Linked DNA regions of Homo sapiens: region 2 is linked to region 1. The links come from fine-mapping of genetic effects on gene expression. Tissue or cell type: testis. Region 1 holds a variant in brackets; the other region holds the start of a gene. All regions are shown on one strand. Distances are between the middles of the regions.

Evidence for each region. PIP is the estimated chance that this variant, and not a neighbour inherited with it, causes the effect.
Region 2: CDH4 starts here. The variant in region 1 is fine-mapped to the expression of CDH4 in testis (GTEx, PIP above 0.99).

Annotation. Positions count from the first base shown.
Region 1 is chr20:61,952,383-61,960,484 of GRCh38, reverse strand. MIR1257 (microRNA 1257) reads left to right here and starts at 6,823; the gene lies at 6,823-6,939. RefSeq lists enhancers at 6,315-6,814, 7,625-8,102. The variant A/GA (reference allele first, on the strand shown) is at 3,739.
Region 2 is chr20:61,247,796-61,255,897 of GRCh38, reverse strand. CDH4 (cadherin 4) reads right to left here and starts at 3,637. Exons shown (of 16, transcript NM_001794.5): 1 at 3,328-3,637; 2 at 961-1,072. The coding sequence starts at 3,384. RefSeq lists an enhancer at 841-1,533.

The sequences.
Region 1 (8,102 bases):
CTGACCTCAGGTGATCCACCTGCCTCGGCCTCCCAGAGTGCTGGGATTATAGGCGAGAGCCACCGCGCCCAGCCAATTTAAAATTCTTTACCCAATGAAAACATTTTTTTCTTTAGAAAAGGTGAAATTAGTTTTTCAGAAACACAAAAATTGAAAGAGTTCATCGCCATCAGACCTGTGTCCCGGCAATGTTAAAGTGATGTCCCATTGTTACCGGGTGGAACGTCTTGACTGTGGGTTGTCCAGGTTCTTGGTGTGTTGAACAAAGAATTGAACAAAATGCACAAACAAAGCAACAAAAGAACGAAGCAATGAAAGGCAAGCAACGAAAGAAAGGAGTAACGAAAGCACAGATTTTTATTTATTTATTTTTAAAATGTTTACTGGAACGCCATGCATTGCCTTCATTTATTGTATTTCAAATCACTGTACATTTACTTTTGTGAAAACACTGCCTACATTTTCTACTACAAAAAAAAAACCTTAGAAATTGTTTCAGGAACGTGGATAACTAGTCGACTTAAATATTACCGCTGCACTACAGCCATTTCTGCAATTCCCGTTTCTTAAATAACTGTCTTGTCTGAAAACACACAATATATGGAGCAATTGTGAAAAACAGACATTTACATATACTTCTAAAGTCTTACTGAAAATGTCTTTTTGGCCCGGGATAACCAATCATAGGTGCGGCTGCAGTAGCAGGATATGAGGGTTCCTGTTGGTTCTTACCATCGTGCGTATTTGGAATATTATTTCTGTTTTGCTGAGTCGAAGGCACAGCTACATTGAGGCGGAAGTACATTCCGCAGAGTGGGAGCGGACTCGAGCAAGTGGCTCAAGACACTATCCCCCCCATTGCAATGCTCCCCAGGTTTTTATAAAGCTAAAAGATTTGGTAACACCCCTAGGTGCCCTTTAGAAGCCTCCCATTGGTTACACCCTATGAAGGATTGATCTGCGGCCAATCAGAGGCTGACGTGGAGGCTTCTGTCTTGTCATCACAGGGGTGGGGATGCGGCCTGTGTGCCGCCCAGTCTTGCCTGGAGCTGGCGGAGCCTGCTGCTCTTTTGCTTCTGCCTTAACCCTTGGTTACCCCAATTCCCTATTCTCCTGCCTCAGCATCCTCAACATATTAAGTAAGGTTAAAGTAAGCTCTGTAAGCAGAAGGAAAGTCATATCAAACGGACACAACAGTAAAGAAATAGCACCAGAAATGGCAACTATGTAGCCAAATATAGAGACGAACATTCCTGTGAGACAAGGGATTGGAACAGACTTCCCCAAAGAAGAAGTACAGATGGCAAATGAGCACACACAAAGATGCTCAGCGTCATTCGTCATCAAGGAAACACAAATTTGAACCACAGTGGGACACTGCTGCGCTCCTCCTGGAAAGGCTGGAATGTACAGGACGGACCATGCCAGCGCAGGGAAGGGTGTAGATTCGCTGGAACCCCCAGACCCTGCATGGGGGAGTGTAACATGCTACAGACATTTTAGAAATCAGCCTGGCAGTTTCTTGAAAAGTTACACCTCAGTCACCACGTGATCCAGCAGTTCCACCCCAGGTGGCCATCCAGGAGAAGGCCTCTGTCCATGTAAAGAACTTGACTTCGACATTCATAGCGGCTTTATTCATAATAGCCGTGAACGGGAGACAAGCCAAATACCCTTCAACAGGTGAATGGATAAAATAAATTGTAGTACACCCACATAAGGAAAGTTTTTCAGCTAGAAAAACAGAATGAGCTACCCCAGGGTGCAGCAACGATAACTCTCAAAAGCATTATGTTTGGTGATAGAGGACAGACTCAAAATGCTGCATCCTGGGTGGTTTCATTTATATGAAAGTCAAAACTACAGGAATAGCGAATAGAATACAGGAGCCCAGGGCGAGGGTGGAGGAGGGGATTGAGTGTAAAGAGGCCCAGGGAGGGAAAGTTTTGGTGTGATGGGAATGTTCCACGTAATCATCGTGCTGGTGGTTACACAACTAGTTTTGGTGTGATGGGAATGTTCCACGTAATCATCGTGCTGGTGGTTACACAACTGTGTACATTTGTCAGAACTCATCAAATTATATTTAAAATTGGTGAATTTTGTTGTATGTAAATTATACCTCAGAGAGTTTTGTTGTTGTTTTCTGAGACGGGGTCTTGCTCTGTCATCCAGGCTGGAGTGCAGATGTGTGATCACAGCTCACAGCAGCCTTGGCCTCCTGGGCTCAAGTGATCTGCATGCCTCAACTTCCCAAGTAGCTGGGACCACAGACGCACGTCACTACACTAGGATATTTTAAACAATTTTTTTTTTTAGTAGAGATGGGGTCTTGCTATGTTTCCCAGGCTGGTCTTGAACTGCTAGGCTCAAGCGATCCCCCGCCTTGGCCTCCCAAAGTGCTGAGGTTACAGGTGTGAGCCACTGTGCCCAGCTCTAGTTTTTATTTTATTTCAATAGCTTTGCACAGGTGGTTTTTGGTTCCATGGATGAATTGTGTAGTGGTGAAGTCTGAGATTTTAGTGCACCCATCACCTGAGTAGTGTACATTGTACCCAATAGGTAGTTTTTTTTTTTTTTTTTGAGACAGAGATTCGCTCTTGTTGCCCAGGCTGGAGTGCAATGGCATGATCTTGGCTCACCGCAACCTCTGCCTCCCAGGTTCAAGTGATTCTCCCGCTTCAGCCTACTGAGCAGCTGGGATTACAGGCGTGCGCCACCACACCCGGCTAATTTTGTATTTTTAGTAGAGATGGGTTTCTCCATGTTGGTCAGGCTTGTCTTCAACTCCTGACCTCAGGTGATCCGCCTGCCTCAGCCTCCCAAAGTGCTTGGATTACAGGGGTGAGCCATCACACCCGGCCTCCCAATAGGTAGTTTTTTGTCCCTCATCCCCATCCCTCCCTCCTCCTCTTTGATTCTCCAGTGTTCATTATACCACTCTGCATGCCTTTGTGTACCCACAGCTTAGCTCCCGCTTATAAGTGAGAACATACAGTATTTGGTTTTCTATTCCTGAGTTGCATCACTTAGAATAATGGTCTGCAGTTCCATCCAAGTTGCTACAAAATGCATTATTTCATTCTTTTTATGACTGAGTTGTATTTCATGACATATATATGTGTGTATTTCATTATCTGTCTGTCCGACCATCCGTCCGTCCATCCTTCCATCCATCCATCTATCTATCTATCTATCTATCTATCTAAATCTATCTCACACTTTCTTTATCTGCTCATCAGCTGATAGGCACTTGGGTTGGTTCCATGTCTTTGCAGTTGTGAATTGTGCTGTGATAAACACACATGTGCAGGTGTCTTTTTGAGGTAATGACTTCCTTTCCTTTGGGTGGATGCCCAGTAGAGGGATTGCTGGGTCGAATGGCTAATCTACTTTTAGTTCTTTGAGAAATCTCCATACTGTTTTCTATAGAGGTTGTATTAGTTTACATTCCTGCCAGCAGTGTGTAAGCATTCCCTTTCACCACCTCCACACCAACATCTATTGTTTTTTGACTTTTTAGTGAGGCAGAAATTTAAAAATAAATATGCATTCATTCACTCTAAGAAAAGTAACAGGCAAGGCAAAGGTTAAAAAGAAAAGAACAAGTTTTCCTCTGCCTAGCAGGGGAAAGTGCAGCAGGCTCACTTCAAGGACAGTTATAAGATAACACTGTTTGAGTAGCCACCGCCAAAGGAATGGGCTCCAGACACCCCCACTCCAGAGCAAGGTTGAGGG[A/GA]AAAAAGAAAGACAAATTCTTTTACTGTTACTCCTTTCCCAGGCTTCTTAAGCATGATTATGTTTTACAAATGTCTGTATTTAGCTAGTTCTTGTTTTTCTTTTGACACAGCTGTGAGGTCACTAGCTATGCAAGGCCACAAGTTATGCTAAGTCAACAGTTACGCTATAGATTACGTGACCTGTCACTGTACGATTAACTGCTTTGTTTTACTCTTGTAAGTCCGCTTATAAAAACCCTGCTCAGTCTTTGTTCAATGCTCAGCTTTTTGGATGTGAGTCCTCTGAGCCGGTACGTACCTAAAATAAACAACAATCCTCCTGTACTCCATAGTGGTCTCTCCGTTCCTCAGTTTACCGCAACATTAATAATGGCCATTCTGGCTGGAATAAGGTGGTATCTCATTGTGGTTTTAATTTGCATTTCCCTAATGATTAGTGATGTCAAGCATTTTTCATGTGTTTCTTGGCCATTTGTTTATCTTCTTTTGAGAAATGTCTATTCGTGTCATTTGCCCACTTTTTAATGAGATTGTTTTTCTTTTCTTGCTGATTTGAGTTCCTTGCAGATTCTGATTATTAGTTCTTTATCAAATGCATAGTTTGCAAACATTTTCTCCCATTCTGCGGGTGTTCTGTTTACTCTAATGATTCTTTCTTTTGCAGTGCAGAAGGTTTTTAGTTTAATTAGGTCCCACTTATTTATATTTGGTTTTGTTGCATTTGCTTTTGGGGTCTTGGTCATAAATTCTTTGCCAAGGCTGATGTCCAGAAGAGTTTTGCCTAGGTTTTCTTCTAGAATTTTTATGGTTTCAGATCTTAGATTAAAGTCTTTAATTCATTTGAGTTGATTTTTGTATATGCTGAAAGATAGGTATCCAGTTTCATTCTTCTACACGTGGCTCACCAGTTTTTCCTAGCATCTATTGAATACGGTTTTGTTTGCTTTATCAAAGATCAGTTGGTCGTAAGGATTTGGCTTTATTTCTTCATTCTCTATTCTGTTCTATTGGTCTGTTATCTACTTTTGCACCAGTATCATGCTGTTTGGTAACTATAGCCCTGTAGTATAGTTGGAAGTCAGGTAATGTGATGCCTCCAGATTTGTTCTTTTTGCTTAAGATTGCTTTGCCTATTGAGGCTCTTTTTTGGTTCCAAATGAATTTTAGCATTGTTTTTCTAATTCTGTGAAAAAGGAATGTTGGTATTTTGATAGGAATTGCACTGAATCTGTAGATTGCTTTGGGCAGTTTGGTCATTTTCACAATATTGATTCTTCCAATAAGTGAGCATGGGATATATTTCCATTTGTGTCATCTGTGATTTCCTTCAGCAGTGTTTGTAGTTCTCCTTGTAGAGATCTTTCACCCCCTTGGGTACATATATTCCTAGGTATTTTATTTTTTTGCAGCTATTGTAAAAGGGATTGAGTTCTTGATTTGATTCTCAGCTTGGTCATCGTTGGTGTATAGCAGTGCTACATTGATGTTGTGACCGAGGCTTTACTGAATTCATTTATCGAATCTAGGAGTCTTTTGGAGGAGTCTTTAGGGCTTTCTAGGTATAAGATCATACCATTGGCAAACAGGTAGTTTGAATTCCTCTTTTCCAATTTGAATGTCCTTTATTTCTTTCTCTTGCCTGATGGCTCTGGCTAAGAAATTCAGCTAGTTTGCAAAAGCAAAGAAAAGAGGGTATCAGCCTGGGAAAAGGCATACAGGAAGATAGCTCAAAGTGAGCACATTAGATTCAGGGCGAACAGGTGTGTGTGGAGTAGGGTTTGAGGGCTACTGAGTGGAACTCTCAGATCGCAGAGGGAGGACCCATTCTCCCCCACCATCGGGGTGGCTGGGCTGGTCATTGTGGGGAGCTGGCTCGTGGCCAGCGTGGATGTCCTCCCCTCTGTGAGTTGGCTCTCTGCCCCGCGCCACCAGGAGGATGTCCTTTGTTATTTCACACTCAGCCTGCACGTGGGCAGCAGATGCAGGAGACAAGGAGACACGGGACACCTGGGGGTAGGTTTGGGATGGGCAGGTGGAGAATCCGTCTTAGTTGGTGGTAATGGAATGGTTTTAGTAGGTGGAAGTTACAAAGAAGCTTGTTTTGGTTTACCATGGAGTACAAGGGTACCATGGGGAGCCGAGCTGTCCAAATACAGAACTGGCTCTTTGCAGGCTGTCTGGTTGAGTGTGTGTTGGGGATGTTGCTGAGAGGATCTTGTCCTGCTGAGGGCTAGATAGGGCTCTTGAACGGTCCAAGTCAGCTTCCCATGAGGGGTCCCAGGGCCCCACAGCATCCGAGACTGAACCTGACAGGCCCACGGAAGGGCTGGTAGCTAACAGTCAGCACCCCAGCTGCAGTGGGACCCCTTGGCCTCCCTCCTGGGCTCCAGCTCCAGGCCTGGAAGGGCTGAACAGGCGGATGCAGTCCCAGCTGACAGGAAGTCTGAGGAGCAGCTTGTAATGAGCTTCGTTGGCTGACAGGTTTTTTTTTTATTAAAAAAATTTGTTTTTTTTGAGACAGAGTCTCGCTCTGTCACCAGGCTGGAGTGCAGTGGCATGATCTTGACTTGCTGCAAACTCTGCCTCCTGGGTTCAAGCAATTCTCCTGCCTCAGCCTCCTGAGTACCTGGTATTACAGGCATGCACCACCACCTGGCTGATTTTTGTATTTTTAGTAGAGACGGGGTTTCGCCACGATGGCCAGGCCAGTCTCAAACTCCCGACCTCGGGTGATCCTCCCGCCTCAGCCTCCCAAAGTACTGGGATTACAGGCGTGAACCACCGCGCCCAGCTGGCTGACAGTTTTATGTTACCACGAGTGCAGCTCCTTGTCAGGGCAGGTCTGTGATTGTGCTACGGCTCATTAACGAGATTGCAAATCATGCGTCTCTCCTGTGTGTGCCCACTCCCCCTGCAGGCCTCCGTGGCACTCAGTAAGCAGCGGGCTCAGGGAGAGCGTCCTGGATGGTCACCATGCAGGTAAGATGAGGAGGACACTTGGAACCAGGCATTGGATGCGAGCCCCACCCCATGGGAGGGGGACGGGGGGATGCTGGGCACCAGGGGGACCTGTGGGCCAGCTGGCCCTGGGCTTGTGCTTGGGGAGTGAATGATGGGTTCTGACCCCCATGCACCCCTGTGGGCCCCTGGCATCACTGGCCCCATCCTTCACCCCTGCCAACCACGCTTGCCCTGTGCCTCTGAAGCTCCCCCACTAAGGGGGTGGAGTCTAATTCCCTGCCCCTTGACTGTGGGTTCAGCCATGTGACTTGCTTTGACTGAGGGGATGTTCACGGGGCATGTGGTGCTCTGAACTGAGAGCTGCGGTGACCAGGCTGCTGTCCTGTGTTGCTGCCATCAGTGAGGGTGGCTAGCCTGCTGGTCAGGGGGAGGATGAGGGAGTGGGGGGCAGAGCTCAGCTGCCCCAGCGGCCTGGCCTGGACCAGCCAACCAAATGCTGACTCTGTGCTGCTGAGATCGTGTTTGTGTTTGTTACTCAGCAACTAGCTGATACACGGTCCCAGCAACAGACAAGGAAGCCCAGAGGTAGCTAAGTGACACTCCCAAGGCTACACAGCATCTCCTACTGGGAGCTGTGTAAGAAATGACCCCCCCCAAACCCTCCATCCTGGCAGCTGAGGGATGAAGGAGAGACCCAGTCCTCCTGTTGTCCACCTCCTCAATATCTAGGTGGGACCCCTACAATATCTTGATTTTTTAATGTTGACAATTGTGGTCAGCTGAAAAATCCCCCCCCCCCCACCCCCACCGCCCTAAAAGAAAAACAGCCCGTGAAGGTGACCTTATTTGGAAATAGAGTCTCTGCAGATATGATCAAGTTGAAGGTCTCAAGATGAGATCTTTCAGGACTAGTCATAGGCCCGAAATCCAATGGGAAGTGTCCATATGTAAGAGGGAGATGGAGGGAGGTTACACTAAGATGAAGTGAAGATGGAGGTGGAGACGGGAGTGATGTGGGCGTGAGCCAAGGAACTGGAGGCTGGAAGAGGCAGTGAGGGCTCGTCCCCTAATTCCCCGGAGGGAGCTCAGCCTTGCCGACCCCTTGATTTCGGCCCAGGGATACTGATCTCAGACTTTTGGCCTCCAGGACTGGGAGAGCATAAATGTCTTTCTTTTAAGCCACCGAGTTTGTGGGACTTTGTTACCTCAGGAAACAAATACAACAGTATATTCAACACTGTGAAGTGTGCTGTGCCAGGTGGACCGTGCCTGAGGCTGGGCCGGCCTGTGGTCTGCAGCATTGACCCCTTCTGAGCCCCCTGAGGGAGCCCCTGCCTGCCCCAGGCCAGGGTCTCAGTGCATCCGGCTGTCTCTGCCGAGGCCGCAGACCCTCCCTCTTGCA
Region 2 (8,102 bases), 700 kb after region 1:
GAATCAACAAGGCACGTCAACAAGTTCTGTCTTGAAGGGCGAGGATCTGAAAAATCACTTCACTATAAGCGTGAGCGAGTTCACGCACATGCATGCACACACACACATACACAGGAACCGCTGTCAGTTCTGGAGGGAAAAGTTTACATTCCCTGGGACACAAAACCGGTAGGGCAGTCAACAGTCCTGAATGTGGAAATTTAGCTTCGATACTTTATCAAAAGTCCTCTTCCTCTATCGCTTTGAAATCAATTCAAAGGCTGCCACTTCCAGGAAACTGATGCAGAGAGGAAAGGCTCACAGCCAAGGTGCTCATGGCACAGAACTGATTTATGTCCCCTCCTATGCAAATATAAAGTCTAATTAGTTTGTCTTGAAAGGGAAACAGACCAATAAGCAGGATGATCTACTGTCATCTGAGTTTTGAAGCTGTCTCTGACTTTCCCATCACAAGTGTGGATATAATCCTGCAATTACGATAAAGCTAATTGGTAGTTCCCTCCTGCATGTGTGTTTTCGTGTTGTCAGTGGGGCAGTAATGAAAATGAATGCCACATTTGTGAACAGACCGTCTGTGGGCTTATTTACCGCATTTCCAACAACATCGTCTGCTTTATCATACATTTCAAAGCAGGGATAATTTAAGTATCCAGAACTTCATGCATAAAAATACTTGGTAAGAAGGTCTCTCTCTGCACACTATTTGGGTGATGTTACATCCGAATTACAGTTTGCTGCCCAGGAAATGATTCACTTCACTCAAAAATGACCGGGGTTCTGAATCATTCACCTGTTATGCAAAACGCCTTTCAGGTCAACCAATTTGCACCTCGTGGACTTCACCACCATCATTTCACAGAGAGCACAAAGATGAGGCAAGCCTTGCCTCTCCCATCTACATGTTTCCCCAAGGAAAAGCATGGCAGCAATTCACTCCCACCCCTCCACACCCCGCCTTACCTTGAAGTAGCTTTTCCCCTTCTAGAATATTTTGGGAGATTAATGCCGTGTAATCATCTTCAGAGAACCCAGCCTTGCAGGTCTCTCTAGTTGTAAGATCCTCATTATGGGCCTGAGAACACAAAGGGGAGAGTGTAAAACAATAAGTTCACAGAAATTTAATCCAACCAACATTCATCCAGGGCCTGCTGTGTAAAAGGTCTCTGGCTAAGAGAGAAAGGCTGGCAGGCCACCGTCTCCACCCAGACGCGATACCCCGTCTGCTCCTCTGCTCTCTGGGGACTTTAGGGAGCACTCTCCAGGCTACAGACCAGGAGCATCCTTCCCCAGCCCCACACACAGCAGGCAGGGAGTGAAGGACGGACTGTTGGGGAAGCCAGGCCGGCCAGGGCCTTATTGGCAGAGGAGACGCCTGAGAAATGACCAAAAGGCAGAGACAGAAGACTTCAGCCGCTGCTCCCGAAGCCACTAAGGGCAGGGAGGCCAAAGTGTGGGCGGCTCTGCTCAGACCATTCGCGCTTTAGGCCCACCGCTCTGCGCTCTTGGTAAGGCGGAGGAGGCAGCTTCTTGTCTCCTCTCCAGGTCACCGGGAGGGAGGAGAAAGAGGAGAGAAAGGAAGAAGATTCTCTAGGACTAGGTCCGGAGCCGGTCGAAGAAGGCAGCTCTGCGGGAGGCTGCCGGTGGCTGGGGTGAGGAGGCAGTGGGGGCGCTTCCACCTTCTAGTCTTCAGCCCGCATTTTCACCCTCGGAGCCCCCATCTCCAGCCCAGGCAGGGAGACGGCTCCCCTAACTGACCGGAAAGGGGGTCTCCTCCTGTCCTCCGGAGCTCGCTCGCCTTTCCTGCTCAGTGGGGAAGTCTAGAGCCCATGGCACAGGGCCAGGGAAGGATGGGGTGGACGACAGGGCCCTCCGACCAAGCTTCTGGGAGGGGGCGTGACAGGCAGGAGGAGGTGGTGGAGGGAGAGGCAGTGTGTGCAAGCGGGAAGCCAGCCCCGCTGAAGGAGCAGGAGCACAGCGGTGCTTGGCTCCCCGGCGAGCGCAGGAAGCCTCGGGTGCAGCCCGCACCGGGCAGTGGCGCCTCCCGCCCGCCGCCTCCTCCAGCTCCGCGCGCTGCCGTCGCCCGCCCATGCTTCGACTCCGGAGGCCGCCCCCAGCCCGGAGCTCCAGGCTTCCCGACGCCGGCACCGCGGAGGGCGCCCCTCTACCCCCAGCACCGAGGGAGGAGAGCGGGACGCAGGGTCATTCCTTACGAAAAGCTCTAAACCGCGGCTTTCTTCATCGGCCACGAAGCTCCAAATCGCACCCGCAGCCCGGTGGGAGGCTCAACTCGCCCAGGAAAGTTTCCGCCCGCCCGAAGCGTGTGCCCAGCGCGTCCCCCAGCGCCCCGCGGCCTCGGAGCGGGCCTCCCGCCGCTGGCACTTGTTTATTTCCGAGGTTACAACAGCGCTGCCCGGGAGAAGGCAGCGAGGCCGATCGGCCACGAGAGGGGGTTCCTGCAACTCCCGCCGCCCCTCCGCCTCCGCCCAGGGGCGCCCCCGGAGCCGCCGCGCTCTCTGCCCCCGCGGGCCGCGCACCTCGCCAGGCGCAGAGCAAAGCTGGCAATCCGGCCCGCGGGGCTCTGCAGAGGCAGCGGGAGACCCGCTCGCCCTCCCGGGGCGCCCTCCCGCGCCGCGCCCGCCCGGCGTCCGGCTTCCCGGCCCAAGCCCGGCCCAGCTCCCAGCCCCCGGGGCCCCGCCGGACACGCAGGCTCCAGCCCCGCCGAGGGCTCGGGGGTGAGAGTGCCCCGCAGTCCTACCCCGCCGCCCACCCGCAGCGCGGGTCCTGCCGGCACCCACAGAACTGAGCGGCGCCGCTAGACGGACCCCCAGGCCTTGGGCAGGAGAGGTCGGGCAGGCGCCCCGCACTCGCGGATCCCTGGCCCGCAGCCGCCGGGCGCCCCACGCCTTCAGCCACGGCCGGGGCTGGGCTCGGCAACTCCCGCGGCGCGCGGCTCCCGGGCGATGGAGGGCGCGCCGGCTCCGCCAGTGGAAGCCTGCCCCATGCAGGCAAGCCGAGCTCCGGGTAGCGGCTACGGGCTTTGGGCGTTCGAGGGAGGCTCGGCGGGTCCGGTGCAGGCGGAGCTCCCCGGGTCCTCCACCGAGCCCCACTCCCACCCTGCTCCGCCGCTCCCCGCTGCCCAGGCGGCTTCCCGCTCCTGCCGACCGCAGGCAGCTTCGCCGAGCGCGGGCGCCGGGCTGGATGCAGCGGGGAGCGCGGCGGGGGAGCCCGGGAGAGCCCCGCCGGGTGTGTGAGCGCCCCGCGGGATCCGGGGACGACCTCCCGCTGCCCGGGGCTTCCGAACGGCGGGGGCGGGAGGCGGCAACTTACCCGGAGCGCGCCGGAGAGCGAGAGCAGCAGAAGGAGCACGCCGGCGCCCGCGGTCATCTTCCCCGCCGCCCGCCCGGTGCCCGGCACCGGGAGCCCGCTCCCTGCCGCCGCCGCCGCCGCCGCCGCCGAGACCACCGCCGCCGCTCCGATCGCCGCCGCCGCCGCCGCTCCCCCGCGCCTGCCCGGAGCCTCCAGCCCCGCTGCGCCCGCCGCGCTCGCCGCCCCGGCTCCGGGAGCCAGGCCAAGTCCGGCCGGCGGCGCGTTCCCTCGGGCCGGTGCGTCCGCCGGCCTCGCAGCCGCCCGCGCCTCTGTTCCGCGCGCTCGGAGCTGCAGGTGAAGCCGCGGCCGCCCCGCCGAGGCCCCGCCCCGCCGCCCGGCCCCTGCGCTCGCTCTGCCGACGCGGGCCTTAAAGGCGCAGAGCCCGCGCCCGCGCCCCCCGCGCCGCACCAGCCCAGCCTCTGCCCTCCTGGACGTCTGGAGCCGCCCGGTTGCGGCCGAAGAGGCCAAGGACGCTCGTTTTCCAGGGGAAAAAGGCGCGGGTGTGGAGACTGAAGACAGCGCTGGGGTTTCCGCCCCCACACCCGGGGCACCCTTTCTGGATGGGGCGGTCCCGCCGCGGTCTTAGTCCGACTTCCCGCCCGGGCCCGCGGTGGGAGTGTGCACTTCCATTCTGTCCTTTTATTTTTCAGGTGTCTCCTTGCTAACTCCCCTGACCCGGGCTTGAACCCAGGTCGGGCAGCTCAGGGGTGAGAGTTTCCACCTGGAGCAGATGAGCAGAGGGCCACGCTGAGATTTCAGCCTGTGGGGCTTTGCAGACCCTCCCGCTCCTAGGAAAACTCAAAGCCCTGGCCTGGGCTAGGGATGTACCCTAGGATTGGGGACGGTAGTAATTCCTGTGTGTGCATCAAAACACCCTGTTAGGCCTCAGAAGCCAAGAAAGAAATTAGAAGCTCCAAGAAAGAAAGAAGTGCCCAGACAGGAGCTGTCAGGAGTGTCTGCGCCGACAGGCTGGGCCAGCTCCAGCTCCCTTTGCCCTGCATGGGTGATGGCTGAACTGGGGGGCACTTCTTTAAGGGTTATCAGGTAAAATATATGTACAGGTCGGACAGTGAGTAAATGTTTCTGCACTTTTCCTTTTGGCTTGGAGATTTAAAGAAACGCGGTTTTGTTTGTTCAGATACATCGAATTTTCTTTGTCTGGGGTTTCAGGGACTCTGTGTCCAGAATACATTAGTTCTGGTTTAAGAAATAGGTTGCAAAGGAGAGGGTGGAAGATTGAGTGACACTGTTGAGCTCCAAGATCAGAGTCCACTTGGGCAAGCCAGTAGAGAAAGCTACAGAGCAGCCGCTTCCCTCTCTCCCTCCCAGAACCCCCACCCTTGGGGGCAGGGTGGTCTCCCGGTTAGAGCTCTGCCTTACGCTTAAGGAAACCAGATTTTAGATAACCCCAGAGGACCAGAGTAAGCACTACATCCGAGAGCACAAGGCGAGATTCGGTTTTGCAACTTAACTATGGAACTAGTCAGGAGACACAAAATCTGCCCCAGCCTGGACTCCTATCAGTTATGGCCTTGTCCCACTCCCCACCTAGCCGAAGAAGGAGAGGTTACCAGTTGACATGGCTGGAGGTTTAGACTCACTCGAAGGTCCTGCGTAGCCAGTGAGGTTTCATGAACAGATCCATCCAAAATCCTCATGGACAGAGAATTCCATTCCTCGGCCATGTGCCCGTCCTTTGGGAAGACGCCCCCTCTGCTTTCCTCCTTATTCAAGGTGCTTCACCACTGCTCGAGCGACATCAGAAGCTGTCCAAGACTGCTTTAGACACCAAGACAGCTCTCTTGTCTTGTGTCCCTGGTCTATTTTCTTAAAATATCTGTCGCTGGGGATACACCTTTGTCTGCAGGAGGCCTGAGCATTATGCGAGTTATTTCTTTGGAGAGGCATCACAGACCCCCGCATTTGCTCCAACGTGCTCTGCGAAACTGTTGAAGCGCTGAGGAGCGCGCCAATTTGAAAAAGAAAAGGTATGAGTGTGTGGCAGGGAGACTGGGGTCCAGGAGCAGGTGGGTCCTGAACTCCAAACACTGTGTTAAGCACATCTCCCTCTACTACTGAATGAATCTTGAGTCTACTGCAGCGTGATTTCCAGAAAGGGTAGAGTTTGACAATAGCCTGTCCTTACAAGGTGCTAGCTATGTGCCAGGGACATGTGTAGGAGCTTTATGTAAAGTTGCTCTTGGAGTCCTTCTAACTCCACTATACAGTCAGGCAGAGGAGGGTGCAGAGGGCAGGCACGGGGAAAGCTGCAGTGCCAGCATTCTCACCCAGAGCTGGGACCCTGGCACACGCAGCATGGCCCCAACTTTGTTCAAAGAAACCTTCTTACACAGCTGTAATGTCTTACGGGAACTCGCATTTTCCGAAATACATAGTTTCAGAAACACTGCAGTAACTGACAGGAGTCCAGTAGAGAGCATTGGTTTATCAGACTTACTCTGAATGCAGCAGCAAAGATTGCTGAGACAGAAAAGAAAAATATGACCTAAAATACAAAGCAGTGCCTCCAAAGAATGGTCTTCAGCCTGTCACTCTGAGTGTGGTCCCCAGACCAGCAGCATCAAGATCCCCCAGGAGCTTGTTAAAAATGCAGAAACTCAGGCCTTACCCCAGACCTGCTACATTGATTCTGAATGCTGATGGGATTCCCCGCCACGCCCACCTCTGGTCTGCAATCATCTGCAACAAAATCACAGAGAAACTCATGAAAAATGCCAGTTCCTAGGCTCCACCTGAAATCCATGGACTTGGAGCTTTTGCAAGTGGGGCCTGGAAGCTGACCTTGTAACAATCTCTCCAGTCCATGCTCATGCCACTAGCATTTGAGAATCACGGCCTGTCCCACAGACAGTATGTCCCACGTAACAGAGCAGCAGCTGGAAGCATCAGAAAAATGCTCTCTCCTATGCCCCACCCTGGATTTCCAGAACCTGGACCTCCAGGGGTGGAGCCTGGGCCTCTGCCTGGGGTAGCTGGAGAAACCCTGGCACAGTGTTTGGCACATTGGCCAGTGGGACTGTGGCCTGCCTTTGGTCCACCCAGTGCAGGGAAGACCACAGCTGGCCTGGAGGAGGAGCTAGTCTCTCTGCACTTTGGATAAAGAGCCCTAGAAAAATGTGTGCGTTTGTTTCTAAGAGAGATTAAGAGAATGCATTTGGGAGGTAGTGTATAAGTGACTGTTTGCTCTCAACACCTGTAAACTGTTGACAGTAATTGGACTACAGATGTTTGCTAAGCTTGATAGACTTCTCTGTCTCCCTCTCGATGAGGTGAGTCTGGGAAGGGGTTCCTCTTTAGAAGCAAAAACCAAGTGCTTGTATCAGGGCCACATTTCCCTATATTCGTTGGATGTTAATTTGTTTCCTTCCCTATTGATAGTTATTATTGTAGACACTTCAATGTTCGACAAAAAGGCTGTTTTGTACAGAAAGCAGTGAGATGTTGGCAAAAGGTGTGTTCGTAGAATAAAACATTGTCTTTGTGGGCGATTGAAGATATTCAAGGCACTGTAGAAATGAATGGAATCAGCCTGCTACCCAGCTCAAGAAAACTCCCTGCATGCAATAGAGAAGAGCGATCTTAAAGCAAAAAGCAAAGGAGAGATTGAGAGGGGCGAGCAGGCAGCAGAGAGACCAGTACAGATCGCTCCCTGCCTTCCATTCCAATAACGCTCACCCGCTGAGGTGAAGCTACACTGGGAATAAAGAAAGGAATAGAGTTATTGTTGTAGGTTTTTCAAAATCTATCTTTCTCCATGAACAGGGATCCCTATGTACTGTGTGGCAGGTACTGTGTCGAAGGTTTTCAGTCATGATCCCATGCGATCCTCACATAGGACGGAGGTGGTGATGCCCATGGTCCACAGACAGGACAGACTTGGGTATGTGAGCAGCCTGGCCTGGGTCACCCGCCGGCACGGGGTGGGCTGAGATTCTACTCCAGGCAGCGTGACTTAGGACCTGGGGGCATGGCTGTGAGGTGCATCCCTTGGAAGCAGAAATCCCAGGGGGAAAGATGCAAATGTCCCCTTCCAACCTAGGGCTGTCTTCTTTCCTTTTCCAGTCTCATGCTCAGCCTGGCCCACTCGCCACCAGCAGAATCCTGACCCTCTAGTCCATCCAGAAGCACACGCCCCCATCCAGGCTCTGTGCCTGTGCCTCTGCTGCTCCCTCCGGAGCTCCTTTCTCTCGGAGCACTGTGTTGGCTTTAGCTGCTGCAGGGCTTGGTGGACACCTCTCTCCTCACAGTGTGGTGGAGCTCCTTTCTGTGTGTCCGCCCTCTGGCCACTCCGAGAGCCTTGAGGGTGGGGGAACAGGGTGTTCCCCTCTCCACATGTGGCCCAGGCTCTAACCCTCTAGGAGCCCCCAGGGGGTGGACCCATAAAGCAATGATACCAACGATGACCCCCACTGGCTGCACTGTACCCTGGGGTACTTCCTGCACTCCCCCATTATACAGATGAAGACACTGAGGCATGAAAAGAGGGGAGGAGCTTGACCTGGAACCCAGGGCTGGCTGAGTTCAGACTTACAGCCTTAGTCATGACTGTGCTCCAAAGAAGCACACCATGCACTCTGGGTTCTGAGGAAGAACCAGGTGAGGCTGCTTCTCTCACTCCCCTGGGACTTGGGGGTCTTTGAATCTTTGGAAATTTCCATGGAGCAGGAGATGCAATTCACAAGGGGAAAAAAATTCAAAACAAAACAGTCAAACCA